7 linked regions of the Homo sapiens genome follow. The protein of the gene in region 1 purifies or fractionates together with the protein of each later gene. This does not show direct contact. Each region holds a gene or a part of one and is shown in the gene's direction. Other genes may lie near its edges.

Region 1 (5,091 bases):
GCATCCTGGCCTGGAATTGCTGCCGTTCACACTTCCCTCCCTGTCCACCAGAGGGGGACAGAGTCCCTCCCAGCCTGGAGTCTTCCCAGGGGATGCCAACCTCACTCAGCGGAACCCACAGCCCAGCAGTGTCCACCCTCTACAGGGTCACTTCTGCCCAAGTCCTCAGCGCCCTCCATGCTCCCCACACGGACACTGTCAGCTCCTCCCTGACCTGGCGGCCGCCAACCTAACACCACTCCCCCTGCAGGTAGCTCCTCCCCACACACCTGCTCCTTCCCTGGGCCCAGCTAAAGGCATCTCCCAGGGCAGCGCTGGTGCACGCGATGCCACACCGGGTGCTTTCCCCTCGTGACCTCCCTCCATCCTCATCAACTCTTTCTGGCACTGCTCCCTAAATGCCCACCCCTGCTCCATCTGTCCTGTTCTCTGGGGCATCCCAGGCCAAGCCTAGCGCTGACACAGAACAGCGGCTGCCTGAGGGCCCACAGCCTCCCCGGGAATCAGCCAGGCACCCTGTGACCTGCCTGCCCGCTGCACCCTGGGGGCTCAGAGCGCGTGTGATGGTCACACACAGGCACCATCCGGGATGTGGCCACCTAACACCAGCTGTCCCTTGGGAAGACAGACCTCTCCTGTGTGCTTGCGGGAAGAAGGGGAATGTTATTGCTCTTTGATCTCAGAACACAACTCACCCCCACCCGCCCTCTCAGGTGAGAGCAATGTCCCTCCAGACAGGCTCTCTGGCCACTGCCTGTTCCTCCTCTACACACAGCAGCTTGGCCAGGTCAAAACCATCAGGACAGACCCCTGGGTATGTCAGCATATGGAGGGCTGAGCCCATCATGGCCACGGAGTAAGTTGGGATGAATCTCTCCAGCTCTGAACCCCTGCTCTGTCCCAGGCTCCCCCTCCCGCATCTCAATGAGCCATGTCCCGCAGGGTTCCTGGGTAACTCCCCACTTCCTCCTGCACCACCACAGGGAAGGTGTGGTGACCACAGGACAGTCAGCTGGGCAGAGAAGAGAGGACATCAAAGATGGTCAGGAAGAACATGAGAAACTATGAGCTCCAGCTCAGCCGCCAGACCCCAGGGAGCCATAGACTGACAGAGAACTGTCCCTTTGACTATGGGACTCACAGCCCCCACTGAGCAACCAGCACAGGCCTCTCCTCCCAAGAGGCATGAGAGATTCACCCTGCACACCGCCAGAAAGGACAGTTTCCTCTGGGACACCCAGGTCCTGAATGTCCATCCTTGGAAGCTGCAGCCAAGCTAGACATGATTAGAGAAAGGAAGGGTCCCTCTCACCAGGCAACACACAGCTCACCCACAGCACAATGGGGCATCATTCTGACAGGGACCTGGTACAGCTCCAGCCTCCTGCACTGAAGGGGAGAGCCTGATGGGGATGAAAGAGGCCAAAGGGCGTTAATTTGCACCCCGACCCAGAGCCATGGGGACACCAGGAGGCTGAGGCCCAGGACTGTTCTTGCCCAACCTGCAGGGTATGTGTCTGACTGTGTGGGTCTGTGTGTATCTCTTCTGTGTGTGTGTGTGTGTGTGTGTGTGTGTGTGTCTGTGTGTCTGCACAAAGTGTGTCTTGAGGTTTGGTGAAAGAATCACTGCTGAAAAAGGCAGAGGCCGCCACAATTCCCAGGGACCTGAAACACAGACAAAAGGAGAAACAGAAGGAGGGACAAGGAGGCAGGACTTAGAGAGGAGGGGACAGAGAGGTGTCCTGGGCCTGACCCTGCCCATGAGCTTGAGAATTGCTCCTGCCCTGGGAAGAGGCTCAGCACAGAAAGAGGAAGGACAGCACAGCTGACAGCCGTGCTCAGAGAGTTTCTGGATCCTAGGCTTATCTCCACAGAGGAGAACACACAAGCAGCAGAGACCATGGGAACCCTCTCAGCCCCTCCCTGCACACAGCGCATCAAATGGAAGGGGCTCCTGCTCACAGGTGAGGAGAGAACTTCCTGGGAGAGGACAGGAGGAGGAAGCAGAGTGACTGGATGGGGTCTCCTGGAGAGGATGGGGTTCTAAAAAATGAAAGAAGCCAGCACTTTGGGAGTCTGAGGTGGGTGGATCATGAGATCAGAAGTTCAAGATCAGTCTGGCCAACACAGTGAAGCCCTGTCTGTACTGAAAATACAAAAATTTAACCAGGTATGGTGGTGTGCTCCTATAATCCTAGCTACTCGGGAGGCTGAGGCAGGAGAATCACGTGAACCCGGGAGGCAGAAGTTGCAGATAGCTGAGATAGCACCACCGCATGCCAGCCTGGGCGACAGTACAAGACTCCATCTCAAAAAAAAAAAAAGAAAAAAGAAAAAAAGGAAAGAAGGCTCTGTTGGAGCCTGGATAGGGGAAAATACACCAGAGAGGGACAGGGGTCAAAACAGGAAAGTCGTATTGGACCGGAATTGGTAAGAGGTAGGAAAATCTTAAGTGTTCTGTTTTCCTGATTAATCATCAGGGGCCACCATATTTTGAAAAATGATAATAATAACTATAGCAGATGACACCTCAAATAAAAATATAAACAGGGCAGGAAACACTGTCCTCAGCAAGAAACCTCAACAATTGGGGGAAAAAAAACACCCAGGGCATGGAGGGCCCTGAGAACTCTCACATCTACAGGAGTCTGCAGCCTGTTCCAGGCACTGGGGTGCAACCAAGATCACAAAAGTCCCTGTCTTCACGGAGCTCACGCTGTCATGGGGGGGAAGACAGACATGCAAAGAGATCTAGAATGTGAGGTCAGGTGTTGACAAGAACCCTGGAGGGAGCAGAGCAGGGAAAGGTCAGAAAGGGAAGACCCAGGGTCTCTGAAGCAGGCATCAGGAAAGAAGTCTAACGATGCCCTGATGTAAGCAGGACCTGAGGGCATTGTGGAGGGGGCCATGCGGACCCCTGGGGAAGAGGATTCCAAACAGAAAAATGCCAACGTCAGAAGTGTTGAAGGAATGGGCGTCATGCTGCTGACCTTGACCTAGTAGGACAGTAGGACACACACACATACACACACACAATCACACATGCCGCTTTTGTGTGTGTGTGTGTGTGTGTGTTTGTATGTGTGTGTGTGTCTGTGTTGTCAAGGCTGAGGACTGAAGAGACCTTCTCAGGACCCAGGGCCCCATGTTTTCACACCAATACATAGGTCTCAATATTGACTGATGTTCTCTCCACCTCCTAGCATCACTTTTAAACTTCTGGAACCTGCCCACCACTGCCCAAGTCACGATTGAAGCCGAGCCAACCAAAGTTTCCGAGGGGAAGGATGTTCTTCTACTTGTCCACAATTTGCCCCAGAATCTTACCGGCTACATCTGGTACAAAGGGCAAATGAGGGACCTCTACCATTACATTACATCATATGTAGTAGACGGTGAAATAATTATATATGGGCCTGCATATAGTGGACGAGAAACAGCATATTCCAATGCATCCCTGCTGATCCAGAATGTCACCCGGGAGGACGCAGGATCCTACACCTTACACATCATAAAGGGAGATGATGGGACTAGAGGAGTAACTGGACGTTTCACCTTCACCTTACACCGTAAGTGATTCCACATGATCCCTGGGTGTTGGGGGACAGGGGTCACTTCTACTTCACACACACAGGATTGTCAGGCCTGGACTCTGCCTGTGTCACTCACTGCGTTATGTCCCATGCTGGGATTTGGGCATTTAGTGCAGGACACACACAGAGGAGACAAATTTCAACAGATCAGAATTCCTTTCCTGCATCCAGACCCTGCAGACACTCGCTGCAGAGGAAGGACAGTCTGATGGGGGGACTCAGCAGGAGGAGATCAGTCTCAGCCAAGCACCTCATGCCCTCTTCATAAATTTGACCCTGAGAAAGACCCTGGATAACTGAGTAGGGCTTGGCCTGAGGGGCCCCCTGAGATACTCTCAGAGAAGCTCAGCCCTAGAAGCCTCAACCCCAGACCCTTGTCCCTAAATCCTTGTTCCAGATAAAGCTGAGGAGCCTGTGCTGGGACTGGGTTGTGGCTTCTTGGGCAGGGCTTACTGGGACCAAGGATTTACCAGCTGTCAGAGGACTGTGTCTCCTGGAGCTGTTCACCAGCCAGGGCTCAGCCCTCAGAGCCTCATCTGGGCCAGGACAGAGCTTTCTTCACCTGATACTCAGAGTGGAGAGGACAGAAAGACAAGCTTTGTAGGCCATCACCCAACTGCCTTAGGAGGCTTAGGATAGTCCATAGAAAGACTAATGTCCCCAGAAGCAGAAACAGAAGAGAGAAGATGTACCAGGTAGCAGCTTGTCCACAGGGATCTGACGTAAAGGTGCTTTCTCATGGAAGCAAATTAATAATAAATGCTGTTTGTGTGAAACCTCCACTGTGCCAAGCATTAGGTCAGGTGACTGTGAATAATTTAACATTTATTCACAGATAGCATGAAAAGCCACAGTCCATTTGCCATTTAGCTTATTTGATTGAGAGAAAACTGAGGCACAGGAAGGCACAGTGACTGAGCAAGAGTCACACAAACACAAAGGGGAGATCAGGGTCACATGAGGTCTGTCTGTAGCCACAGGCCCATCCTCTACTCCACCAGAAGTGAGGGCTTACTGGGTTCCAAGCACCCCATAGTCATTTGTTGGCTCAAATCCTCTCTTCTTAGGCATCCAAACCTCAGAGGAGTGAGAGCAAATGGTCAGCTGATTAGTCTGCACTCCAGAACTAAATCACCTGCTTCAACCATCAGAGTCAGTGCAAAAAAATGTCCAGGCCTCCTCCTCAGATCTTAACCACCATCACTGAACCTGAAATCCTGTGTTTCCCAAAGTGTCCTTGTCACTGTCATGAGAGGATCAAGGAGAGGACCTTGTTTTCTTTCCCCACTCACACTCTACACCACCACAGGCCCAGCGAGAGAGACACACACTCAGGAGCTCTCACATGACAAATGAAGGAATGGAATGAAGAAATGAATGATCCAAAACCTCTTTAGAGATTGGATCTTGGATGCAGAATCCTAGGAGGTTCTAGCCACACCTGTCCCTTGTCCTTCAGAGGCTGACATCCATGTTTCATCCCCCCACTACCTCTTGC
Region 2 (4,328 bases), on another chromosome or scaffold:
TGTTATGCTCTACTAGAATGTGAAGATAAAGACTCCATTTCTGAAACTTAAGGAGCAATCTAGTAGGTGATATAAAGATAAATGCACAGCATGATATAATACATAAGGAATGACAATTTGGCCGGGCACGGTGGCTCACACCTGTAATCCCAGCACTTTGGGAGGCAGAGGCGGGTGGATCACGAGGTCAGGAGATCGAGACCATCCTGGCTAACACGGTGAAACCCCATCTCTACTAAAAATACAAAAAATTAGCCAGGCGTGGTGGCAGGCACCTGTAGTCCCAGCTACTCGGGAGGCTGAAGCAGGAGAATGGCATGAACCCTGGAGGCGGAGCTTGCAGTGAGCGGAGATAGTGCCACTGCACTCCAGCCTGGGCAACAGAGTGAGACGCCGTCTCAAAAAAAAAAAAAAAAAAGAAATGACAATTTAAAAAGTAAATACTGTTAACAATAAAATATATGAGGAATAAGTACTTTTCACTGTGGAATTAGGAGAGGTATCAAGAAGAGGCAGCATTTCAACTTTGACTTGAAGGTGACTGGTATTTCAATAGTTGGTCATATAGAGAATAGGCATTTAGAATAAAATGTGTTATATTTTAATTGCTTGTCGGACACCCATCTTTAATCATCATCATAAACAATTGCTCATTTATTTAGTCTTATACTAAGCCACATGATTTTGAGAGTTTTACAATATTAACTAATTTCATCCTCACAAAAATCCTATGAGTGAAGTAATAACTCATTCTATGGGTGAGGAAAGGAACTCAGAAAGATCAGGTCAGTTTTGTAGGTCAGATAACTAAAAAATGGCACAGCTGGAATTTGAGCTCAAGCATTTGAACTACAGAGCTCATATTTTAAATCTCAATGCCCATCTGTGTTTATTTAGGTTGAGATGACTTAATTGAGACATGGAGGTTGAGCCAGAGCCAGCAGATCATCTCTTAAAATTGAGCTTGTGTGTCATCTATAATGATGTGATAAACACACATTTTAATTGAATGAATGAAGTAATGTAAAATGAGAAGACAGAGGATCAGCTTAAGAAATTACATTCATAGGCAAGAGAGAGAGAAAAAAAAACAGCTTCCATAAATGGACATTTTGTGCTTTGTATTCATGAGTGTATCCAGAAAATGAACCTAAGAAATTTTTTAGAGTTTCCAATATTTCTTCACTTTTCATTTATTTATAAATTCATTAGTATTTACTGTTTGATTAAAACATTACTGTTTCAAATTGTCTTGCATGATTCACAGAATAGTTTTATCAGTAGGCAAAACAGATACCCTCTTTTTTAAGAAAAGGCTAAGTGATTTACCCAGGATCACACAACTAAGTGTGACTGATTTGAATTTACATCTTAAGATTTATTATATATCTTGATCTTTCATGAATCTCGCCATTCAGCTGAAGTCAACGTTTCAAAAATGAATGCCTTACTAATTTATAAATCTGTTAGTTATTTCTCCTTTCTCTGTAACTCTTCCAACATTCATTACCATTGTTTTTTTCCTTATAGAATACCTATCCAAATGTTTTCCTTCTGAAGTATTATGTTCTACTTTTAGAAAACAGAGTAAGAAAATATCACTGTTGTCTCATCCAGACATAACTATTTTACATGTTTAAGTATATTTCCTTCTATGTGTATCTTTAATACAGATATGATATTATATATCATAGTAGTTGATATATTACATCCAAAATATTATTTTTGCTTCATGTCTCATCAAAATTTTCCCTTTCTTCAATCAAAGGGAAATGTTTGTTGTGATGTCAATGATTTGAAAATTTCAGGACAACAAATTACAGTGGCATGCCAAAATGGTTGTATCATCTTTTTTTTTTTTTTTTTTTTTTTTTTTTGAGACGGAGTCTTGCTCTGTCGCCGAGGCTGGAGTGCAGTGGCGCGATCTCTGCTCACTACAAGCTCTGCCTCCCAGGTTCACACCATTCTCCTGCCTCAGCCTCCCGAGTAGCTGGGACTACAGGTGCCCACCACCATGCCTGGCTAATTTTTTGTATTTTTAGTAGAGATGGAGTTTCACCGTGTTAGGCAGGATGGTCTTGATCTCCTGACCTCGTGATCTGCCTGCCTCAGCCTCCCAAAGTGCTGGGATTACAGGCGTGAGCCACCACGCCCAGCCCATCCTTTTATACCTGTTAGTGCAACAGGACTGCCACAGCTCACATGTAGAAATTTCACTTCACAGAGTCATGTAGTGCAGGGTTTGAAAGACTTTGTGACTTAGCCCTTTCCAGAAATAAGCAGGTATGTTAACAGCTCACATTCTTCTATTTACTGCTGGGATAAATAGCACAAACAATTTCTGTTTACTTTTCCTGCATATTCACCATATGGTAATATTTTACCATATTTGCTTACCATTATACACAAACACACATACCCTTACTTATTATACGTTGCATTGTATGTAAGCCATACATTTTATATATAGTGTATGTATGTGGTGTACATATATGTATGAATATGTGTGTATTTATGTATATGTGTGTATCCTCTCTTTAATATATTGTCTCATGGTTCCTCGTGATTAGATCTGGATTAATTTTTAACAAGAGTACCACAGCAGTGATTCTGTGTTTTTCTCAGTACGGGTTCGCTGAAGACTAATGGCCATACTTATTTATCCAAATTAACTGATAAAGTCAATTTTGATCACTAGTTTAAATTGGTGTTTTGGTAGGTTTTCCACTGTTATTATTTCCCCATTTGTAATTAATTAGATATCTTCTGGAGGAACATTTTGTCAGTATGTATATAGTTATTAAAACAAAATCTCCAGACCTGTCTACCTATTCCTTTACTAAAAGTTCATTTACATAGCTTTTTATTAGAGAGGGAGGGAACTGATGTGATGGAATGCAGGGATGGGTAAGAGTTAGGATACCAGGTAAAGTGTCAGAAAAGATTTAGTAATTAATATTGTTTCCCAAGAGTTTTATAAATTTAAATACATTTAATTATGTATATATAATCATACATATTTATATCTAAATATATATGACATGTATCCATATATAACATAAGATGCACAATATGTAAATACACATATATGTGCATGTATGTGTACATATGCACATACACACGTTTATGTATGTACCTGCATGCCTTGATATATTTACAGTATGCATATCGTATATACAGTATACATATATACATATATGACGTATATATGTACACACACCATATTTACTTAAAGTTTGAAACAGACAAAATACAGTTAACTTTAGTTAGATATGCTTGTGTGCGGTGGGAAAACTATAAAGAAAGAAGAGGTGAAATGGTAAACACAAAATTCAAGCAGTTGCCCTTAGGCAGGGAGAAGGGCAGGACTGGTGATTCAGAGGGAGCACGAGAAGTGGAAAGGAGCTTTTAAGCTGGCAGATTTCTTTTTGAATGTTTACTTTATATGTTTTAAACTAGACATGTCTTTTATACTATTCTTTTATGTTATTCTTTATATTATTCACTATTCACAATTAAACAAGATTAACCTTAAAAATAATTCTTATGATTTTAGCTGTTAAAGAAATATACTTGGTTAGTTTAGTGTTTCTTAAATACATGTAGAATAGTGTTGTGGGAAGTCAGGGACCCCGAACGGAGGGACTGACTGGAGCTGCAGCAGAGGAACATAAATTGTGAAGATTTCATGGACATTTATCACTTCCCTAAGAATACTCTTATAATTTCTTATGCCTGTCTTACTTTAATCTCTTAATCCTCTTATCTTCGTAAACTGAGGATGTACGTCACCTCAGGACCACTATAATTGTGTTAACTGTACAAATTGATTGTAAAACGTGTGTTTGAACAATATGAAATCAGTGCACCTTGAAAAAGAACAGAGTAACAGCGATTTTTAAGACAGCGATAAAGTCTGACTGCCTGTGGGGTCGGGCAAAAAGAGCCATATTTTTCTTCTTGCAGAGAGCCTATAAATGGACGTGCAAGTAGGAGAGGTATCACTAAATTCTTTTCCTAGCAAGGAACATTAATATTAAGACCCTAGGAAAAGAATTGCATTCCTCGGGGGAGGTCTATAAGCGGCCGCTCTGGGAGTGTCTGTCCTATGCGGTTGAGATAAGGACTGAGATACGCCCTGGTCTCCTCCAGTACCCCACCCTGGTGAATTTGAGGTCAGACTGGTTCTCTGCTCTCGAACCCTGTTTTCTGTTGTTTAAGATGTTTATCAAGACAGTAGGTGCACAGCTGAACATAGACCCTTACCAGTAGTTCTGTTTTGCCTTTTCTCCTGTTTCCCCAGAAGCATGTGATCTTTGTTCTCCTTT
Region 3 (4,328 bases), on another chromosome or scaffold:
GGAGTACCACCTACGACTGAATGAGGATGCAGCTGTGGGCACCAGTGTGGTCAGCGTGACCGCAGTAGACCGTGATGCCAACAGTGCCATCAGCTACCAGATCACAGGCGGCAACACCCGGAATCGCTTTGCCATCAGCACCCAGGGGGGTGTGGGTCTGGTGACTCTGGCTCTGCCACTGGACTACAAGCAGGAACGCTACTTCAAGCTGGTACTAACTGCATCTGACCGTGCCCTTCATGATCACTGCTATGTGCACATCAACATCACAGATGCCAACACTCATCGGCCGGTCTTTCAAAGTGCCCACTACTCAGTGAGTGTGAATGAAGATCGGCCAATGGGTAGCACCATAGTGGTCATCAGTGCCTCTGATGATGACGTGGGTGAGAATGCTCGTATCACCTATCTCCTGGAGGACAACCTGCCCCAGTTCCGCATTGATGCAGACTCAGGAGCCATTACATTACAGGCCCCATTAGACTATGAGGACCAGGTGACCTACACCCTGGCTATCACAGCTCGGGACAATGGCATCCCACAGAAGGCAGACACTACTTATGTGGAGGTGATGGTCAATGACGTGAATGACAATGCTCCACAATTTGTGGCCTCCCACTATACAGGGCTGGTCTCTGAGGATGCCCCACCTTTCACCAGTGTCCTGCAGATCTCAGCCACTGACCGGGATGCTCATGCCAATGGCCGGGTCCAGTACACTTTCCAGAATGGTGAAGATGGGGATGGAGATTTTACCATTGAGCCCACCTCTGGAATTGTCCGTACAGTAAGGCGGCTAGACCGGGAGGCAGTATCAGTGTATGAGTTGACTGCCTACGCAGTGGACAGAGGTGTGCCCCCACTCCGGACTCCAGTCAGTATCCAGGTGATGGTGCAGGATGTGAACGACAATGCACCTGTCTTCCCAGCTGAGGAGTTTGAGGTGCGGGTGAAAGAGAATAGCATTGTGGGCTCAGTGGTGGCCCAGATCACTGCAGTGGACCCTGACGAAGGCCCCAATGCCCATATAATGTACCAGATCGTGGAGGGGAACATCCCTGAGCTGTTCCAAATGGACATCTTCTCTGGAGAACTGACGGCACTCATTGACCTAGACTATGAGGCTCGCCAAGAATATGTGATTGTGGTGCAGGCCACATCTGCTCCTTTGGTCAGCCGGGCCACTGTGCACGTCCGCCTGGTTGACCAGAATGACAACAGCCCTGTGCTCAACAACTTCCAGATCCTCTTCAACAACTATGTATCCAACCGTTCAGACACCTTCCCGTCGGGCATTATTGGGCGCATCCCAGCTTATGACCCCGATGTCTCCGACCACCTCTTCTACTCCTTTGAGCGTGGCAATGAGCTGCAGCTGCTGGTAGTCAACCAGACCAGTGGGGAGCTGCGACTCAGCCGAAAGCTAGACAATAACCGCCCACTGGTGGCCTCCATGTTGGTGACTGTCACAGGTGAGGGGCAGGGGGCAGGCAAGTGACCCAGTGACACCAACCTGTTGGGCCTCAGGGACTCCACAGGGCACCTCAAACCAAAGAGGGATTTCTAAGCCTTCCAAGAACCCCTTAAGGGTAGGGTTCCTGCACCCTACAAGATCTGCCACAGACCTCACAAGGACTCTGCTTAGGTTCCTGGATAATCTCCACAGAATCCCAGTGATTCCAAGGCATCTAGCAGACCCCATAAAGCCTGTAAAGAACTGTCTGCTACCTAGGGATATCTCCCCTCCTGATAAAAGGTCAGAGGTCCTGGGGTAATCCTCTGGAGGTCCTAGGCAAAGCCAGTATGGGCCAGTCAGTCCACACTATGCCCATGTTCAGACGAAGGGTTACTTTGGGTCCAGTCTGACGCTTACCCTATCTGTGCAGGAAATGACCAATACTTGAGTGGTCAGGAACAGCAGCTTACTATGGAAGCTTCAGGTGGACAGTGGCTTCGTAGGGCCTGAGACCCTGACCTTTGGGAAAATGTCCAGAGGTCCACTTGCCTCTTTCCTGCCCCATCTGCTCCAGTCTTTCAGAAACCCCTCCATAATAGGAGAGTGCAGGTGGGAGAGGCTCTTGAAGTTCTGCCTACTGGAGGCTGCAGAGGTTGGGAAATAGGCTTCACTGGTGCTCATTCCTCAGTTCTGGAGCAGGGACTCCTGGCACTGCCTGAGAAGGCACAACCTTCATTTATCCCTCAACTCACTCAACAGTCTATCCTTATTGACCACCCAGTATGTGCTAGGGTGTGGGGACAAGACGAACAAGGCAGCTAAGCACCTCACCTTCATCTCTGGGGTGGTCACTGTGAAACCACAGGACCCAGGTCTGGAGTGGCGAGCAGGCTGCTAACTCAAGAATGCTGGTGTGTGTGTGTGTGTGTGTATGTCAGGGTTCAAGACCCCCCTGGAGCTTGATAACCCAGGATTCTGGAGGATGGCATTGAGTCTTCACTGGGCCAGGGCCCCTTCTAGTGTCATGGAAGAGCAATTTGCTGACCAAAAATAGGAGATAGGTGATCCCTGATCTGGAACCCTTCTTTTCTGGAGGGGGATGTTTTGCTGGTTCTGCTATGCTGGAGGAGGGGAGAAGGGAAAGGTGGCTGGGAATGAGTGGCCAGTGGCCCTAGCTCCTCTCTGTGTCCTGAGTTGGGGTGGCCTGCTGACCATGATAACTTGGGGAAGTGTGGGTTACTGAGTACTTAGGGTACTTGAGTGCTGTTGCGGGAGTGACTTGCTAACCCATGGGCACTGTGTGGGGTTGCTTGATCCTTGGCCCAGACCCCTCCGTGTATTGGGGATTGGGGGAGGAAGCAGCAGCTTTTTGACACCTTGATGCTGGGGGAGCTGGTGGTCACTAGCCCCAGACTCCCTTGTGTCCTGGTGGGGTCAGCCTGCTGACTTAGAGGTTCTGGGGGCCTAGGCTATCGCTGGCCCCAGCCCTCTTGTGTCCCAGGGAGGGGTGGCCACTGTCCCCAGGATGACCACTGCCCCTGCCCCCGCCTGCAGATGGCCTGCACAGCGTGACGGCGCAGTGTGTGCTGCGCGTGGTCATCATCACGGAGGAGTTGCTGGCCAACAGCCTGACCGTGCGCCTTGAGAACATGTGGCAGGAGCGCTTCCTGTCACCGCTGCTGGGCCGCTTCCTCGAGGGCGTGGCTGCGGTGCTCGCTACGCCCGCTGAGGACGTCTTCATCTTCAACATCCAGAACGACACAGACGTAGGGGGCACCGTGCTCAATGTGAGTTTCTCGGCGCTAGCTCCACGTGGGGCCGGGGCGGGCGCTGCAGGGCCCTGGTTCAGCTCCGAGGAGCTGCAGGAGCAGTTGTACGTGCGCCGGGCGGCGCTGGCGGCTCGCTCCCTGCTCGACGTACTGCCCTTCGACGACAACGTGTGCCTGCGAGAGCCCTGTGAGAACTACATGAAATGCGTGTCCGTGCTCCGCTTTGACTCGTCCGCGCCCTTCCTGGCCTCGGCCTCCACGCTGTTCCGACCCATCCAGCCCATCGCTGGCCTGCGCTGCCGCTGCCCGCCCGGATTCACGGGAGACTTTTGCGAGACCGAGCTCGACCTCTGCTACTCCAACCCATGTCGCAACGGCGGAGCCTGCGCGCGGCGCGAGGGAGGCTACACGTGCGTCTGCCGCCCGCGCTTCACCGGTGAGCAGGGCGCCGGGCCAGAGCTGGGGGAAGCACGGGCCAAGGCTGGGGGCGGGACCACAATGCGAGTGAGTACTGGGAGTCACTTCTGAGGCCACGGCCTGGTATGGACGCGCTTAGGCCAGAAGCCGTAGAGCGTGGCCGGAAGGGGCCGCCGCCGAGGCAGCGATGAGACTGGGGAGGGGGCGGGGCCAGACGGAAGGGGCGTGTCCACCGAAGAGGGCGACCTTTCGGGGGTCTTGGCACCCGGCCTCTGGGCGCGCGGTCTTTGAAGGGGCCGGAGCAGGGGCGGGCGTGGGCGTGACCGCCTCTGACCGCGGCTTGGCCCCCAGGAGAGGACTGCGAGCTGGACACCGAGGCCGGCCGCTGCGTGCCGGGCGTCTGCCGCAACGGGGGCACCTGCACCGACGCGCCCAACGGCGGCTTTCGCTGCCAGTGCCCGGCAGGCGGCGCCTTCGAGGGCCCGCGCTGCGAGGTGGCTGCGCGCTCCTTCCCGCCCAGTTCGTTCGTCATGTTTCGCGGCCTGCGGCAGCGATTCCACCTTACGCTGTCCCTCTCGTAGGTGCCCGCCCCGTGTCTGAGCGCCTCCCCGCCGCCCCCACCTACCCGCCCTGACTCAGATTCCTGACTGCCCCGTCCTGGCATCCCCATGAGACACCGCCCCTCC
Region 4 (3,683 bases), on another chromosome or scaffold:
CAAAGGAATTCCTATGAATTTATGGTGAAGGGTCAATAACGCTGCTCATTTATCCAAGAAAATACTTGCCTATACACCAGAATGGTCAAATTGTTAGATTTCACCACTGAGAAAAATATGGATTTAGAAAATATACTTTTTTCATATAAGCTTAATAATTTGACTCTTGGTACATGATACTGCCACATTGTGTGTTCTGGCTGACTATTCCTGCAAAAAACCTATGTACTTTTTTCCTTATATATTTTTCATATACAGAGTATTTTTTCACACATCTATAACTCAACTTAAGTAAATTAGAAACATACCCGAGCTTATATTCAGAAGCTGGTCTCTCTCAGAAGAAATTCAAGTATTTCCCCTGTACTGCCTTTCTGAGGTACTGAAGTAAAAGTTGGAAATCTGGAGTCCATTTGGAAACTCTCACAAACTGGAACCTGAGGAGGTGTTCTTTAATGATTTAGAATTTTTAAGAGCTTTTTCCAGTGGAAAGATTGCACCATCTATGATAGCTACTTAAGAGCAAAAGATACAACATTTTATCTTGGTTATTTTTTCAGTGGCTTTAAAGGAACATTTAAGACAAATCTGATCAGGAAGAGCAAGTTGCTATGGCCTAAATACATTTCCCCAAACAAAACTTCCCCAGAGAGGCTCTGCTTGCTTTTTCTGTGCCTTGAAGTGACTTCTGTAGTCCAGACGAGCTGTATCATAGTGAAGGTGTGAAGACACTGAAGACTCTGGGACCCTAAACCTTACTAGAGTTCACATGCTGAAATTCAAATAACTGGCATAAATGTGAAAACAACGCCACATGTAATTGCTACCACATCCAGTTTACTCTTCTGTAGGAGGTGCTTCAGGAAGTCTCCCTCCCTGTGTCTTGGGAGCCACTGATTTCACTTGACTATAGACTGAATTTTGGAGTGAACACTTATCACGCAGGATCAAAGTAAAGCATCATAGGAATTCTGATTTTATGAACATTGCACACTGCCTAAGCAGTGAGTGTTCACTTTATTCTGAAGGAGTCAGATTAACCAAGTCCAAAACTTGATTTATTCCATTAATGTGACCGCTTACATGGCAAAATGACCAAAACTATCATCAGTCACTGGTTCTCAACCAGGGCTGATAATGCTCCCCTGGGGAGTGGTAGAGATGTTAGATTACTGCATTTTTTTGGTTGTCACAATAACTAGGAACTGCTACTGATTTTTCTAGGAAGGACAAGGCTGGTAAAAAATGTATTCAGGCCAGGTTCAGTGGCTCACACCTGTAATCCCAGTACTTTGGAGGCCGAGGCAGGTGGATCACCTGAGGTTGGGAGTTCGAGACCAGCCTGACAAACATGGAGAAACCCCATCTCTACTAAAAATACAAAATTAGCTGGGTGTGGTGGTGCATGCCTGTAATCCCAGCTACTTGGGAGGCTGAGGCAGGAGAATTGCTTGAACCTGGGAGGTGGAGGTTGCAGTGAGCTGAGATTGTGCCACTGCAGTCCAGCCTGGGCAACAAGAGCGAAACTCCATCTCATGAAAAAACAACAACAACAAAAAAAAACTGTATTCAGTGCAAGTCCTACACCACAAGGAACTGTCCTTGCTCAAGCCCCCAGAATGCCAGGCGCACCCCCGTGAGAAAGACAACATCTTTCCTTCTGTGGCTTCAAAGAGAGACTCTTTTCTCGGAGTGTCATGATGGAAAAAACAGGGGTTTACATAATGAAAAAATCAACTGAATTTTACTAGAGGTTTTTTTTTAAGAAAAAAAAAAGTTTAAGTTAATACCTCAGTTCTATACTTCAGCTTGTTAAATGAAATAAACGGAGTGGATAAGAAAGAGAATATGAAAGACCGTAGAAGACAGAGCTTTCCTGATAATTAGACAGAGGTGAGGACCCAGGGAATGAACAAAAGTTCAGGAAGAAAGGACAGCTACAGAGAAGGGTGAGGAGAGACACAGAAAGGTGGCTACACACCCACACCGACACAAAGACTCACATCTTAGTGGCCCAAACCCCCATCGCGCAATCTTTTAGCGTGGTACTGCCTCTAAAGATACAAGATCTTTTTGAGTATTCACAGGTAGAGCCTCATAAGCCAGACTATCCCCTATGTGACAATCAAGCCACAAGTTGGATAAAACGTTTTAAAGAGTTTCAACCTTGGCAATGGACCGCAGTGTGGCAAGTATTTAGGCTTCTCTTCTAGTTATCAATCCCCAACAACCAGCGTAACATCACAGCTCCAACCTGAATTTTGGTGACAAATGTACAGAAGCAAATGTGAAACCTCTATGAGGGCCTTTTCTTTAACATTAAAATGTTTCGTATCTGAAACTTAGAAGAATGTAAACTTGTTTTTCAGTTCTGCTTGCATTTGCCTTCACTGTCACATCACTTCAAAATGTTTTCTTCTGCAGTATTAGCCGGCACTGTTATCACAACCATCACTCGCGATGGGAGTTTGCACGCCACAGTCTCGATCATCAACATCTACAAAGAGGGAAATTTGGCGATTCAGCAGGCGGGCAAGAACATGAGTGCCAGGCTGACTGTCGTCTGCAAGCAGTGCCCTCTCCTCAGAAGAGGTGAGTAGGGAGAAAACTGGGTGTCTCTGAGCAAGCCATGGATTTTCCATGCCATGGTTGGTCTAGGGAAGTAAAATCAGGGCTAATATGTTGCCCACTTCTTGCAGAGCAGGAAGGCCTTTGGAGTCAGGCAGAATTGGGCTCTCATCCAAGTCCTTGTAACTTGTGGCAGAAGAAGGGGTAGTGGACATGATGAACAAGTGAAAGAAGCGTTTGAAGTTGAGTCAATAGGCAACAGACACACAGAGCAGTGCAGGGTGGAGAGATTTTAGACTATTGCACTTAAGATGCCAGTACTGTCTAGGTTTAAAGAAAAATATCCAGCAGCCAACAGGAAATGCAGACCCGAAGTTCAGAAGAGGGAGGTATATCCGGGCTAGAATCAAGATCTGGGAATCATTTGCAGAGATAGGACTATTAAGTCCATGGATGGGAGTGAGTTTATTGAAAGAAATTACGAAAAACGGAAAGTTACTCCAGAGCTAGAGGCACATGACTTTTTAAGAATATGTATTTAACAACTTATAAAAGTAACATATGTTTCATGGTTTTTAAAAAGTTGAAATAAGTAGGTAAGAGTATGTTTAAAAGTGAAACCCTTTTCCTTTCCTTAGAAGTACTCTAAAAAGTTCCTTCCAGCCAGACACAGTAGCTCATGCCTGTAATCCCAGCACTTTGGGAGGCCGAGGTGGGAGGATTGCTTGAGCCCAGAAGTTCGAGATCAGGCTGGGTGATGTAGTGAGACCCTATTTCTATAAAAAAAAAAAAAATTTAAGTTCCTTCCAGAAAGTTTCTATCCACATAAAGCATGGGCATATACACTTATGGAATCATATCACACACAAGTTCTGCAATTTTTCCCCTACATAAGCTCTAACATCTTTCCACACATACACACAGAGAGAGAGAGAGAGAAAGAGAGAGAAAGATACAGAATATCCACTTCAAGAAAGCTTTACTGTCCCAGCACTTTAGGAGGCTGAGATGGGAGGATTGCTTCAGCCTGAGTTCGAGACCAGCCTGGGCAACATAGTGAGACCTCTGCTCTACTAAAAATAAAAAAATTTAGCCGGGTGTGGTGGTGCGCACCT
Region 5 (4,328 bases), on another chromosome or scaffold:
CTCTGCCCGGCCGCCCATTGTCTGGGATGTGAGGAGCGCCTCTGCCCGGCCGCCCTTCGTCTGGGAGTTGAGGAGCACCTCTGCCTGGCTGTCCCATCTAGGAAGTGAGGAGCGCCTCTGCACGGCCGCCCCGTCTGGGAGGGGAGGAGCGCCTCTGTCCGGCCTCCCATCGTCTGGGATGTGAGGAGCGCCTCTGCCCGGCCACCCAGTCTGTTAAGTGAGGAGCTCCTCTGCCCGGCCACCCTGTCTGGGAAGTGAGGAGTGCCTCTGCCCGGCCGCCCCGTCTGGGAAGTGAGGAGCGCCTCTGCCTGGCCGCTGTGCAGTCTTCCAAGTGTGAAGTGACAGCCTTTCTGCAGGTGTACCCAACAGCACCGAAGAGACAGCGACCATCGAGAATGGGCCATGATGACGATGGCGGTTTTGTCGAAAAGAAAAGGGGGAAATGTGGGGAAAAGAAAGAGAGATCAGATTGTTACTGTGTCTGTGTAGAAAGAAGTAGACATAGGAGACTCCATTTTGTTCTGTACTAAGAAAAATTCTTCAGCTTTGGGATGCTGTTAATCTATAACCTTACCCCCAACCCCGTGCTCTCTGAAACGTGTGCTGTGTCAACTCAGGGTTAAATGGATTAAGGGTGGTGCAAGATGTGCTTTGTTAAACAGATACTTGAAGGCAGCATGCTCGTTAAGAGTCATCACCACTCCCTAATCTCAAGTACCCAGGGACACAAACACTGCGGAAGGCCGCAGGGACCTCTGCCTAGGAAAACCAGAGACCTTTGTTCACATGTTTATCTGCTGACCTTCTCTCCACTATTATCCTGTGACCCTGCCACATCCCCCTCTCCGAGAAACACCCAAGAATGAACAATAAATACTAAAAAAAAAAAAAAAAACTACAGGTAGAAACAGATGAAGGCCAGGCATAGAACTTTGGATAATCCCAAGGTATAAGGATTTGGAGGAAGAAGTGAACGGTTGAATAGAAAGCAGAAAATGTAGGAGACAAAATGTAGACCATGGTTTAGTGAAGCGTGGCTGTGAGGACCCAGAGAGCTGTAAGGCAGTAACCAGAAGTAGGAAGGGAGACTTGGTTTGCCTTTTCTGAAAAAAGATATAATAAAGTCATGAAAGGAGCTGATAGTTGGCTACATTTACCCGTGTAACTGGCAGTGACACAATTACGACTCATTGCAGCCTTGACCTCCTGGGCTCAAGCAATCCTCACATCTCAGCGTCCTGAGTAGCTGGGACTACAAGTGCACCCCACCACACCTGATTAATTTTTTGCATCTTTTGTAGAGATGGAGTTTTGTCAGTTGCTTAGGCTTGGTCTTGAATTCCTGGGCTCAAGCGATCTGCCCACCTTGACCTCCCAAAGTGCTGGGATTGACGGTGAGCCACTGTGCCCAGCTTCTTTTTTTTCTTTTAAATATAAAAATTTTTTTTTAGGCTGGGTGTGGTGGCTCACATCTGTAATCCTAGCACTTTGGGAGGCTGAGGCAGTTGGATTGCTTGAGCCCAGGAATTCGAGAGTAGCCTGGGCAACATGGCAAAAACCCATCTCTACAAAAAATAGAAAAATTAGCCAGGTGTGGTGGCAGGCGCCTGAAATCCCAGCTACTTGGGAGGCTGAGGTAGGAGGATCACCCGAGCCTGGGAGGTCAAGGCTGTGGCGAGCTGTGATCGTGCCACTGCACTCCAGCCTGAGTGACAAGAGGGATCCTGTATCAAAAAAAAAAAATACATATATATATATGTACGTTTAGAGACTGCATTTTGCTATGTTGCTGAGGCTAGTCTCGAACTCCTGGACTCAAGGGATCCTCCCCTCACCTTCCCAAAGCGCTTGGATTACAGGCATGAGCCACTGTGCCAGACCTCCAAGGATACATTTTTTGTTTTGTTTTTGTTTTTGTTTTGAGACAGAGTCTTGCCCTGCCACCTAGGCTGGAGTGCGGTGGTGTGATCTCGGCTCACTGCAACCTCCGCCTCCCGGATGCAAGCAATTCTTCTGCCTCAGCCTCCCAAGTAGCTGGGATTACAGGCACATGCGACCACGCCCAGCTAATTTTTATATTTTTAGTAGAGACGGGGTTTCACCATATTGGCCAGGCTGGTCTCGAACTCATGACTTTGTGTTCTGCCTGCCTCAGCCTCCCAAAGTGCTGGGATTACAGGCGTGAGCCACCGTGCCTTGCTTAAATAATACGTTTATAATAATTGACCACTTATGGGAGTTGGGAGCTGTAATGGCTGCTTAAAGTTGGCAACATAGTCTCATTTTAATTGTGAAATACAAAAATTTTTATCATAATAGTTAATGAACATGAATAATATTACAAACATGTTAAAATTATGTGATTAGACACATTAGGGGCTATCCAGGCTAGTGTGTATAGGTTACCACTGCCTGTGCCTCAAAAAACTCACATAGATTTGTGCCTTGGATATCCTTTGATGCAAATTCTTAGAATTTTCTGATATGACATACCCTTAAGTATACTTTATCATATAGTAACTAGTATTACGTGGACACAGTTTATTTATTTATTTTTTTTGAGACGGAGTCTGGCTCTGTCATCCAGGCTGGAGGGCAGTGGCGCGATCTTGGCTCATTGCAACCTCCACCTCCCGGGTTCAAGCGATTCTCCCACCTCAGCCTCCCAGATAGCTGGGATTACAGGCTGCCACCACCACACCCAGCTAATTTTTGTATTTTTAGTAAAGATGGGTTTTTGCCATGTTGCCCAGGCTGGTCTTGAATTCCTGGGCTCAAGCAATCCAACTGCCTCAGCCTCCCAAAAAGTGCTAGGATTACAGGTGTGAGCCACCACACCCAGCCTAAAAAATTTTTTTTTTATTTAAAAGAAGAAAAAGGCTGGGCACAGTGGCTCACCATCAATCCCAGCACTTTGGGAGGTCAAGTTTCACTCCCAGAGTGCTGGGATTACAAGCGTGAGCCACCACGCCCAGTATGATTTGTATTTTTTATAAATATTTTAATGTTGTAGAAGAAAAAATATTGCCAAGCATAGCATTTTTCTCCCCACCCCTTCTTACCTGTTTAATGACACGGCACAATATTGGCCATAGGCAAGAAGGGTGAGGCTGAGCTCACTTGCTGTTTTTTTTTTTGAGGAATGGGTACCAAATTTATTTGTTAATTTCTTGCATTTGAAGTACACAGTCACATCCTTGGCCTGAAATTCTTTGCTGTAGCCCTTCACTGTGACACAACTGCAACCAACCACTTTACAAAGTTTTCCTTGTCTATCAGTTTTACAAAGGCTTAGCCATGTCTCTGGTTTCTTAAGGTCATCAACCTTAATTGGGTTGATTTGGTGTTCGGCACAAAGGGCCACCCCTAGCTTGACATACATAGGCTCTTCACATTTGGATGCAAGCACGCAAAGATGGGCTTGGCCCTTGTCTAAGGCTTTGGCAGCTTTGCAGGTTCCACCTGCTAGGCCATCATGGCTGAGGGCGGTCTTCAGTCTCTTGTAGAGCAGTATTAATATCCATTACACCTCCAGCAGCGTGTCTTCCTTGGTCATGGTGGTGGGTTACAGGTGAAGGTGAATCTTGAGCGCACTCAAGCTTCTGTCTCTGAGCATGTTGTCCATGGCAGAGAAAGAGAGTTGCCTTTCTTTTCTTAACTGCAGGTAGTGGGCAGCAGTCAGTGACAGGTGTAACCTCTGTGGATGACAGCAACAGTTACTGGAGGATACGGGGGAAGAGTGCCACAGTGTGTGAGAGGGGAACCCCCATCAAGTGTGGCCAGCCCATCCGGCTGACACATGTCAACACTGGCCGAAACCTCCATAGTCACCACTTCACTTCACCTCTTTCTGGAAACCAGGTGAGGTGGCTTTCGATGGATTGTTGCTGCTCTGCATTACTCAGTGGGTGCTTGTTTGATCTCTTGGTTCTTAAATGTTTCTTTTCTAGGTGTAGATGTTCTCTTTTGTGCAGACCTGGGGAAATGGCTCTATTTTTGTGTGGGTTTTTGTTGTTTTTGAGACGCAGTCTCACTCTGTCACCCAGGCTGCAGTGCAGTGGCATGATCTTGGCTCACTGCAACCTCCGCCTCTGGGTTCAAGCAAGTCTCCTGCCTCAGTCTCCCAAGTAGCTGGGATTACAGGCGCATGCCACCATGCCTGGCTAATTTTTGTTTTTATTTTTATTTTTTTGAGATGGAGTCTCACTCTGTCACCCAGGCTGGAGTGCAATGGCATGGTCTCAGCTCATTGCAACCTCTGCCTCCTGCGTTCAAGCGGTTCTCCCACCTCAGCTGCCCGAGTGGCTGGGACTACAGGCGTGTGCCAC
Region 6 (4,984 bases), on another chromosome or scaffold:
AGGCTGGTCTCAAACTCCTGACCTCGTAATCCACCTGCCGTGGCCTCCCAAAGTGCTGGGATTACAGGCATGAGCCACCGTGCCCAGCCCAAAACTGTGCTTTTTAAAAACAGTATTTTGTTATAATTTTCCAGAACTTACCTCTGTTTTAAAAGTGTGTAATGTTTGATTACACCCTGGGATTCCCTTCTCATCTGTGGGCTTTGGCCATGATTTCCAAAATTAACAGGAGAATCATTCCACTGGAAATATAACAATCCAGTCCTCAAAACTGAAAGTTGACAGGTTGAGGGACTTTCCTTTTTTGCTTCAATCAGATTACGGCCGCCTGTGCAGTGGCCATGGTAAATATATGCATATTTGCACTATCTGCTTAATGAGCAAATCTGTGTCCACAGTTTCTGATGACATATGGCATTGGTGTGTAAATTGTACTGTCCCTAGTCTGTGCATTATTCACTCAGACATATTTTTAGTTATTTCAATTGCGTTTAATCCACTTCTTTTTTATGAGTCAGTGTTTCTGAATGTTTATGCAAAAAAAAAAATCCTTTTTCATTCCCAAACTTTCTAAGTAAGTGGATACACTACACTTCACAAGTTTTCCAGCCTTTCTCTTCCTGTCTCTTGGTCAGACCTACTCATGGAGGTATTATCCACACTGTGATCTTGAAATAAATGAATTTCACTAAGGCTGCTTTCGAGAACAAAGTCTTTGGTATTTTTCTTATGTAAGAAGCACATTTGCAAGAATCATGGAAAAAAATGACAAACTAATGGCCTAGAATAGAGTGACTGCTACACTTTAAGTAATGCAATGACATAAAAACCATCAAAGTAAAACCAACATGTCATTTCCTGCCCCCAGGAAATATTAGAATGAGATTAATGCTGATGAGTCCCTACTGCTTACACAGCATCTCTTTGAGGGAGAATGCCTGACTGACACAGTAATGAAAGAATAAATAGATCCTAATGCAGTCATGAAGCCACTGAAGAAAATTGTGCCCACCCTTTGCTGTGACCTATATAAAATATCTCTTTCTTTGGGATATCATCCCCTGATTTTCTGCAGAATAGCTCTGCAGCTAAATATATACCAGGCAAGCATGTATTGTGTTTTGATTTATTATCTTTAAACACATGATATCTCTTCACTTTTTGGAAAGTTAGATTTCTCTGTAGATTATGAAATGCTTTGCAGTCAGGCCAAGATGCTACTAGGTGGGGATGATCACTAATTCAAAAAAGCTGGAAGAATCCTATTTGCTAGTCCAAACTCCTTATTTTATCAAAGAGGAAACATACCCAGAGTGGGAAAGAGACTTGCCCAAGCCCACAGAGGAAGTTAATTCGCTTAACAAGGAGTAGAACCCATCCATCTAGCCAATATTCTTTTTACATCATATTGTTCACCCCTACACTGCCTTGAGCATGGGAGTCACCTGGTTCTGATGGACCCTCTGACTTCCACCATTCCTTCTTTGGAATATGCTATAAAAGAAAATTCATGGAGAATATTTTTCTGAAAGCCTCATGATCTTATGTTTCCTTGCAGTCCCCCTAGGGAGAGGGGTTATAGAATTCATACATTTCTGTAGACATTCATCGAAATGCTGCTTTTGCCAAATGAATGTTTGTATAATAGGGATGAAATGATAATTACAGAGTTCAGCTCAGACCAGTCATCAGTTGTAGTGAAACTTTGATTATACTGTTACCTACTGGTTGCATTTTTGGTTTTGGTTTTGCATTTTTTTCTTCCCACAAACACTGGCTACTCTTTGTCCTACCCCCTCCACCATGATGAACCATGTGGAAACTATTTAAATCAATTAATGTCTTTCTCATTTTTCGAACATGTATGTGCCACCTCCTGGAAGCCATTTCCCATAATCTGTTGTAGGCACTTTACTAGTATTGCACACATTCTGGTTAGGTTGAGAATAGCTAGACTCTTGGTGCTCGTCATATAGTAAGCAAGAACTTGGGAGTAATAAAAGGTGAATAAAATGCATGCTTCATTTATTCCCTTTCCTCTATGAATATTTTGCTGCTGCATTCTAGTCTATGCCAGCTTTCCATGTACCCTTGGCCTGCCTATTCATGAAATGCCATATAAAAGACTTAGGAACATGAGTAGGTGGTCCATGCTTTGAGGTTCATCCAATTAGGGAATAAATGTGAAAGGCTGGAAAGGGAACTAGTTTCTGGGATTTGCCTGGAACTTCCCTTGGACATTACTAGCACATTCTGGAAAAAAAGCAAGTTGAACATATCTACCATCAGTCCTCTCCTACTTACTTCCCACCCCACCCTATCCACTACCCCCACTGATGCTATGTTTGCATCATCAAAGTCAGGGGAATTGAGAAAAGAGATTATCAAAATAAATTATTAAAATCCAGAAAACAGTTTTATGTGAAGTAATTCAGGAAGATCTAGTGTTCATTTTGCATGGATTGTCCAGATAATTGGCTCTTCACTCCGCTGCCTTCCCAGTGCACAGGTATTGCTAAAGTGGTTAGGCTTTAATGTTTTATGTTTTTAGTTTCAAACTATGGGAAATGGAGATTTGAAGAGGCATTTATTCCTTGTCATCATTTTGTGTGCTCTGTGAGAAGGTGGTTATATGTTTTTGCTGGTTTGTGTCCCACAGTGTTCAACTGCACATTATTCTGATGAAAATCCACAATGTCTTTGAGCTTCTGGTTGTGTAATGCTGGGGTTTAAAGTCACCATTTGTGGGTTTGGCATCAATTAATATTTAGCCAGCTGGCTAAGAGATAGGAAAAGAATATGATATTTCTTTCCTTATGTAATAATGAAAAGCAATAATTACAAGTAGGTAATAATACACAAAGGCCATAATTAGTCTCTTCTAGTGTTTAGAATGCACTTGAGAATCGTAGAGTCATTTGGAGCGTGTTTGGACCAATTAGTATGTACTGTAGTACCCTTCTGGCAAACAAATAACTGAATTGCTACTATTTAACAATCTTATGAGCCCACACTACTGCATTTTGGGAGTGGCAAATGTGTTTGGAAATGGAAGCAGTTCTTTTTAAGCACTGTATCAGAGAGATTGTCTTGTACGTTTGCCTGTTGCAAACAGGCTGGTTTGTAAAAGATGTATGTTTTGGTGTTTGAAATGTTTATAAAATTGTATATAAATGGTTTCAATTTTCCAGGCTTTTGTAGATACTATATTTGATGCCTATCAGGATGCTTTAATTTGGGGGGTCGAATATAATTGTAAGTCATCCACGCTGTTGGTCTGCAAACTTTTGAGGTAACTACACACACACACACACACACAAGGATTTTAGATTTGAAAATGATGTTTTTTACTCATTTCAAAATGTACTGTAACCTTTCTTTGGTTCTTACTGTTTTCATTTAACTTTCTCTGTTTTCAAGAAAAATTGTCTTTATTGACATTTGTAAAAAAGAATGTGTTTTGCCCAGTTATTAAGTATTTTATTTTTATGCAATTTCAGAATCACAATGAGGTATGCCATTTCTTCATATACATGCACATTCACCTCAACTTGCACACACATCACACACCAAACCTTATGCAAAGGGGAAAGCTAACACTTAGAGTGGATTTTGTCCCTTAAGGAAATGGATTGTTCCTGCATATATTGCTGGTGGCAGTATTCAGTCTTGTGTTCTTTTTCTAAAAAAAAAGAAAAGAAAAGAAAAAAAAAACAAAAGCAAACAAAAAAAAAGACAGCCAAAAAAAAGAAACAACAACAACAAAAAAAAACACAACAGTGTACAGGTTTGTAACTGCCAAAATTTGATGGTTAAAACAAGTTTTCAAGTAAAAAGAAAAAAATGAAACTAGCAATTGTGTTGACTCTTTTTAAGTGTTTCCTTTTCTTTGTCTTTAGTTCATTGCTCGCATGGTATTTAGAGGTGTATTCCACAGGGCATGGTAGAAAGACGTGGTACAGAGCAAAAAAGCTCTTTAGCCCTAGTCTACCTCTCAAAGAGAGGGGTCTCTGGTCTGACAGGGACATTTTAGTTTTGTTGTGTTAGTGTGGCTTCCCCAACCCCCTGAGACTTTTTACCTCCAGAAAAACTTCTATCTGTCCTGGTACACATGTTGAAATCTTATGTAACTTCTTACTGAGCACACGCCTTGTGAGATTTTTTCCCTGGTGGGAAAATTGAAAAGAGTGCTGGAGGCTTGAACAAATAAAGATCATCGAGTCCTACATCTGTGGAAATCTAAGCACATCCCCACCTCTTCTAGACAGCAGCTCCAGCACTCCTCTCCCTCAAAAATAAATAAATAAATAAATAAGGTTTTTTCCAAAAGTTTTCCAAAGGTTTGGGGCACAATTGAGTTTTCCTCCAAAAAGCTCCCGAAAATGTTCCATATGGAGTGAAGGTCTGTTAAAATATACACAGAAGAGGTTACAGACAGGGAGTAGGGCTCAAATTGATACAGCTGACCTTGAGCAAGGGAGGTTTGAACTGCACAGGTACACTTAAGCGCAGATTTTCTTCTGCCTCTGCCCACCCCCCCCCGAGACAGCAAGACCATCCACTCCTTTTCCTCCTCCTCTTCTGTCCACTCAATGTGAAGACGATGATGAAGAACTTTATAGTGATCAACTTCCACTGAATAAATAGTAAATATGTTTTCTCTTATGATTTTCTTAATAACATTTTCTTTTCTCTGGCTTACTTCATTGTAAGAATATGGAAAATAATACATGTAACATACAAAATATGTGTTAATCAACTGTTTATGGTACTGGTCAGGCTTCTAATCAACAGTGGGCTATCAGTAGTTAAGTTTTGGAGTCAAAAGTTATGCATGGGTTTTTACTATGAGTGGGTTGGCACCCCTAACACCCATGCTGTGCAAGAGTTAATTGTAATTTGCAGAAGTGACATCACAAGGAGTTAGCGTGGGACCAGGAAGAACTCCAGAAAGGGAGGAATGCCCTCTGCCTTGCCTCTGCAG
Region 7 (4,328 bases), on another chromosome or scaffold:
ATGGCTGCATGTTTTTTGTCCTCTTCTGTCTCTAACCATATGTGGGTTTATAATAGTGAAAAAGGGCTGTAACAATAGTATGGGGTGGATGTGGTTCTATAACAATAGTGGGAATTGAGTAACTTAGAATATATAGTAGTTGTAATGGGTGGTGGATGCATCCTGAGAAATAGCTGTCGCCTTGAGCCTGTTAGAACAGATACTAGCTGTAATTTATGAAACTGTCCTCTATACAGTAAAAAGTGTGTGTGTGTTTTAAAAGGCTTCAAAAATAATTAGCTCTGTTAATGAAACTGAATATTCACAATCACTGTTAACAAAGAAAAGCAGGTTGATTGGCCAATATTTAGGGAACTCCAATATTAATTCTTCACAGAGTGACTCTTAAATGAAATGACTCTAAGGTGTGCTTCAGATTTTTGAAACATTTCACATACATAAAAAAATTTTTTGTTGTTTATTTTGGTGCTACTTTCCAGATGACGATTTTATGGGCTCTGATATGTGACTGTTGTACTTCCAAATTAACTTTTCTGAATGCCAGAGTCTTACCTGAAACTCTAAATTGTAATCTAGAATATAATGTTTTCTAGAAGTAGTTGTTCAAGGACCTGTAATTATCTTTCAGGGGCTACTGTATCTTAACCGCATTCAATGTGCCTAAGAGTTAGGAGAGAGTAAAGGTTGACCTCTGCCACCTTTGAAAGTTTGAAGGGATAAAAATATCAGTGGTGACAACCACAAGCTTTGCTACGCATTGTCCTAGGCTTACTGTAAGAGGAAAAAGTGCTTTGTCATTTTTCACATAGGGATGTCTCGCTTTTACAAATCTATGGGAGTTTCCAAAACCTCTGTCTCCTAGTCAATAGAAGCTGTTAGTCTTGCTCACCTCCTAAACCACAATTTGGTAATTCTGACAGTTCCGTTGCTTTATCCTTTCCACTTCTGTTTGTCTCCCAGATTAGTGTTTCCTAACTTTTACTCAAACCCACCCTTAAAATACACATTGCTTCGGGTACTATGTACATAGAGAAAAAAGTTAATGAAATCGTACTCTTAACTACCTGTGCACTCAGATGTTTTCTATTTATTCCTCCTCTTTCTCACCCTTCCCTTCTTCATTTGCTGGTCTGGACTCATTAAATAAATTTTGGATCCACTAATAAATTGCAGTCCTTAGCTTGAAAAACACTACCCAAGATGAAGCCTTAAAATATAGTTTAGAGGCCAGGCGTGGTGACTCAAGCCTGTAATCCCAGCACTTTGGGAGGCTGAGGCGGGTGAGTCTCCTGAAGTCAGGAGTTTGAGACCAGCCTGGCCAACATGGCGAAACCCCGTCTCTATTAAAAATACAAAAATTAGCCAGGTGTGCTGGTACATGCCTGTAATCCCAGCTACTCAGGAGGCTGAGGCAGGAGAATCACTTGAACCAGGAAGGTGGAGGTTACAGTGAGCCAAGATTGCACGATTGTATTCTAGCCTGGGTGACGAGTGAAACTCTGTCTCAAAAAATAAATAAATAAATAAATGTAATTTAGAATGTTTCTTGTTTGTATATCATTTTACAATAAACTTCAAGAGTTGCAGATGGTTAATTTTTGGTTACTTGCTGCCAGAGCATTTGATAGTCGTAGAACTGTTCACAGCATATACTGATTGACTTGTGATAAAATTCATTTTTAAACTGGTTTTCAGCTTATTACAGTCAAGAGTCTTTACTGTTCACAGTAGTATTCTAGATGTTGTGGTAGCCTAAAATAATCTTTTTACTTTGCATATATGTAATGGATGAATCTTTTCCCATGAATTTTATGGAATGTTCAGTAGCACTTAATAACTGGTTTAAGGGTAGACAAGAAATTCCAATTTTAGAAAGGTTGTAGAAGTAACTGGAACATGAGGGAAAAATCTAAACCAGATACCAATTACTTCTTACAAAGTCAAGTTTGATTACATAAAATGTGTTGAATAAAATTGAATTAATTGCTTAACATAAACCCTTCCTTGAGTTCAGAATCTAAATTATATCCATATCCTTGGGAGAATATGAAGGTGGGCAGCACATTCCACAAAATTCTAGGTGGTTATCAGGGCAGAAAGTATTAAACAAGCACTGTTAACTGTATTCTAGATAGAGTATGGAGGAGATTTGAATGATGTATGGTAAATGATTTATAAGGTTCCTAGAAAGTAAAATTTCTTTTGAAGAACATAAAAGGGATTTTAGCCTGAAAAGTGAGCAGCAGTTAAAGAAAATGTTGAGATTTACTTTTGTAATTAGAAAATTTAAAGCTTATTAAAATATTAAGGGAACAAGAGGGCCTTTTTGTGTTTCTGATATGAGATGTTGTTCCTTTTTTTTTTCCCCACTTTACCAGTGATACCACAATTTAAGGGGTGAAAGTTCAGTAAAAATATATATGAAATATAAGTGAGAATTATATAGATTTAAGTAAACATAGAATATTTTTATTTTAGATATTAATCCTGTTCTTACTGCAAGTCTTTATAAGAAGAGGAAGGTTGTTCTAAATTTAGGAATTGGAAGTTGATGATCTCTAATTTCTAAGGTTACCTTTCTTTTCTGTTTTTCTTCTTTTCTCCTTATCACTCCCTGCTTTTTGAGAGAGTTAAGTAATAGATGTACATTATTTATTCCCATTTTCTAAAATTTAGGATTAGATCCTGCAAATACAAATTACCAATGTATCTATTCAAATACATGTTATCAGAGTCTCTTCTTTTTAAGTATATATAAATATATTATTTCAATACTGTATTAGCTTAGGGAATTCTTACTGTCTAAGTTATAGAAGGGAAGGAAGGAAACTAACATTAAATTAAGTTTAATAGCACTTATTTACTTACAAGTACTTAATACTTACATTGAAAGATGCGTGATTAGTCTTTATTTATTGCCAATTAATCTTTAGTAGGTCTTATTTGGCAATCCTGTCAGATATGTACTCTTTCTTTTGTTTTATGGAAGAGAACATTGAAACACAGAAATATTGTGACTTAACTGAAGTCAAACCAGTATGAAGTAGTAGAGTCAGGATTGTAGCCTAACCCTGGCTGTCTCTTCACTTAGTTCATTTAGCAAATATTTATTGAGCCCTTGCTTATGTCTAGCACTGTGTTAGATAAAACCTGATGCACATAGTTTCTGCCCTCATGGAGCTTATAGTCTAATGAATAAGTTGTAATAAGTGCTCTCAAAGAAACAGACATGGGGCAGAGATAGTGAGTAACAGGCACAGAGTAATTAGGGGAAGACTTTTTCATGAAGGGACGTTTATGAGACCTAAAGCATAGCTAACTGTGTTATGGTTGGGTAAGAAAGCTTTACATATGAGAACAATGCATGAAAGGCCCAGGATCAGGAAAGAGCTGGTATGTTGCAGATAAATTACTAAAAACACTGTAACTGGAACATAATGGTTGTAAGGGAGAGTGACAGGATGAGATTAGAGCAATACTTAGAAACTCTAGGATTTAGAATCCATGGTAAAGAGTTTGGGTTTTATTTTAACTATTTAAGTGACATAATGTGATTTATGTTTTGAAACAGTCACATTTGCTACTATGTGGAGTATTGTTGTGAAGTGGGAAACAGTAGAGATGGGATGATCAGTTAGGAGATTTTGGCTGTAATCCAGGTGAGAGATAACAGGAGCTTGGACCAAGGTAGTAGTAGTGGAGATAAAGGAGTGTAGGTTGCCCTGTTGATAGAGATAAGGGGATTTTTCCTCTTGCCGTAAGAGGTAAAGAAGAAAATATTGGTGCAAGTGTACTTAGGTCTGTAGGTTTTGGGGTGGGAAGGTGGACATTACATCTGATCGTTCTTATTTTCTCAAAGTAATATGACATAAGATCATCAGTGAAGAGGAGGAATGAGAAGTTGAGGGTGATTTTTGTTCCCTCAATTCAGTAGAATGGTTTGGACGCTTAGCAAGTTAGATTTCTGTTATTTAATCTAGAATAGAGAAGGCTATGAACACTATACAAGCACATATATTATGAATAGTTGTACAGCAGATGACAGGAAGAGATGGACTTAAATTACAAGGGGAGGAACCTTAAGAAGGGTTCTGTGGAGAACTCAGTTCTGAGGGCAGTCATTTTGTCAATGAAATAAGTATAGAACATAACTTTTTACAATGTTTTAAGTGTATTTCAGGCAAGAAGCAAAGGGTGGAGCAAAAGCTGGATTTCCAATACCTTTTTGCCAAAGTTAAATGCTTTCTGCTAAGCTATCAATAAAGATTGCTTTAGAAATCAGATTGTCTTTGGTAGAGGCAAGAATGTATTAAAAGATTGGTGAATTT

The links.
Region 2: the proteins of PSG1 (region 1) and MANEA purify together in Homo sapiens (affinity purification with mass spectrometry, with the first as the bait; one large-scale study listed by BioGRID). This does not show direct contact.
Region 3: the proteins of PSG1 (region 1) and CELSR3 purify together in Homo sapiens (affinity purification with mass spectrometry; 2 studies listed by BioGRID and IntAct, with this or other methods). This does not show direct contact.
Region 4: the proteins of PSG1 (region 1) and PCOLCE2 purify together in Homo sapiens (affinity purification with mass spectrometry; one large-scale study listed by BioGRID and IntAct). This does not show direct contact.
Region 5: the proteins of PSG1 (region 1) and SDF2 purify together in Homo sapiens (affinity purification with mass spectrometry; 2 studies listed by BioGRID and IntAct, with this or other methods). This does not show direct contact.
Region 6: the proteins of PSG1 (region 1) and FAT3 purify together in Homo sapiens (affinity purification with mass spectrometry; 2 studies listed by BioGRID and IntAct, with this or other methods). This does not show direct contact.
Region 7: the proteins of PSG1 (region 1) and LRP12 purify together in Homo sapiens (affinity purification with mass spectrometry; 2 studies listed by BioGRID and IntAct, with this or other methods). This does not show direct contact.

Annotation. Positions count from the first base shown.
Region 1 is NC_000019.10:42,876,391-42,881,481, reverse strand, and holds the start of PSG1 (pregnancy-specific beta-1-glycoprotein 1 isoform 2 precursor), read left to right. Parts: upstream 1-1,768; 5' UTR 1,769-1,900; coding exon 1,901-1,964; intron 1,965-3,203; coding exon 3,204-3,569; intron 3,570-5,091.
Region 2 is NC_000006.12:95,580,325-95,584,652, forward strand, and holds part of MANEA (glycoprotein endo-alpha-1,2-mannosidase), read left to right. Parts: intron 1-4,328.
Region 3 is NC_000003.12:48,656,031-48,660,358, reverse strand, and holds part of CELSR3 (cadherin EGF LAG seven-pass G-type receptor 3 precursor), read left to right. Parts: coding exon 1-1,472; intron 1,473-3,010; coding exon 3,011-3,661; intron 3,662-3,993; coding exon 3,994-4,219; intron 4,220-4,328. UniProt on the Homo sapiens protein: Receptor that may have an important role in cell/cell signaling during nervous system formation.
Region 4 is NC_000003.12:142,819,787-142,823,469, reverse strand, and holds part of PCOLCE2 (procollagen C-endopeptidase enhancer 2 precursor), read left to right. Parts: intron 1-2,424; coding exon 2,425-2,592; intron 2,593-3,683. UniProt on the Homo sapiens protein: Binds to the C-terminal propeptide of types I and II procollagens and may enhance the cleavage of that propeptide by BMP1.
Region 5 is NC_000017.11:28,654,820-28,659,147, reverse strand, and holds part of SDF2 (stromal cell-derived factor 2 precursor), read left to right. Parts: intron 1-3,664; coding exon 3,665-3,861; intron 3,862-4,328.
Region 6 is NC_000011.10:92,892,622-92,897,605, forward strand, and holds the end of FAT3 (protocadherin Fat 3 isoform 1 precursor), read left to right. Parts: 3' UTR 1-3,852; downstream 3,853-4,984.
Region 7 is NC_000008.11:104,582,423-104,586,750, reverse strand, and holds part of LRP12 (low-density lipoprotein receptor-related protein 12 isoform a precursor), read left to right. Parts: intron 1-4,328. UniProt on the Homo sapiens protein: Probable receptor, which may be involved in the internalization of lipophilic molecules and/or signal transduction. May act as a tumor suppressor.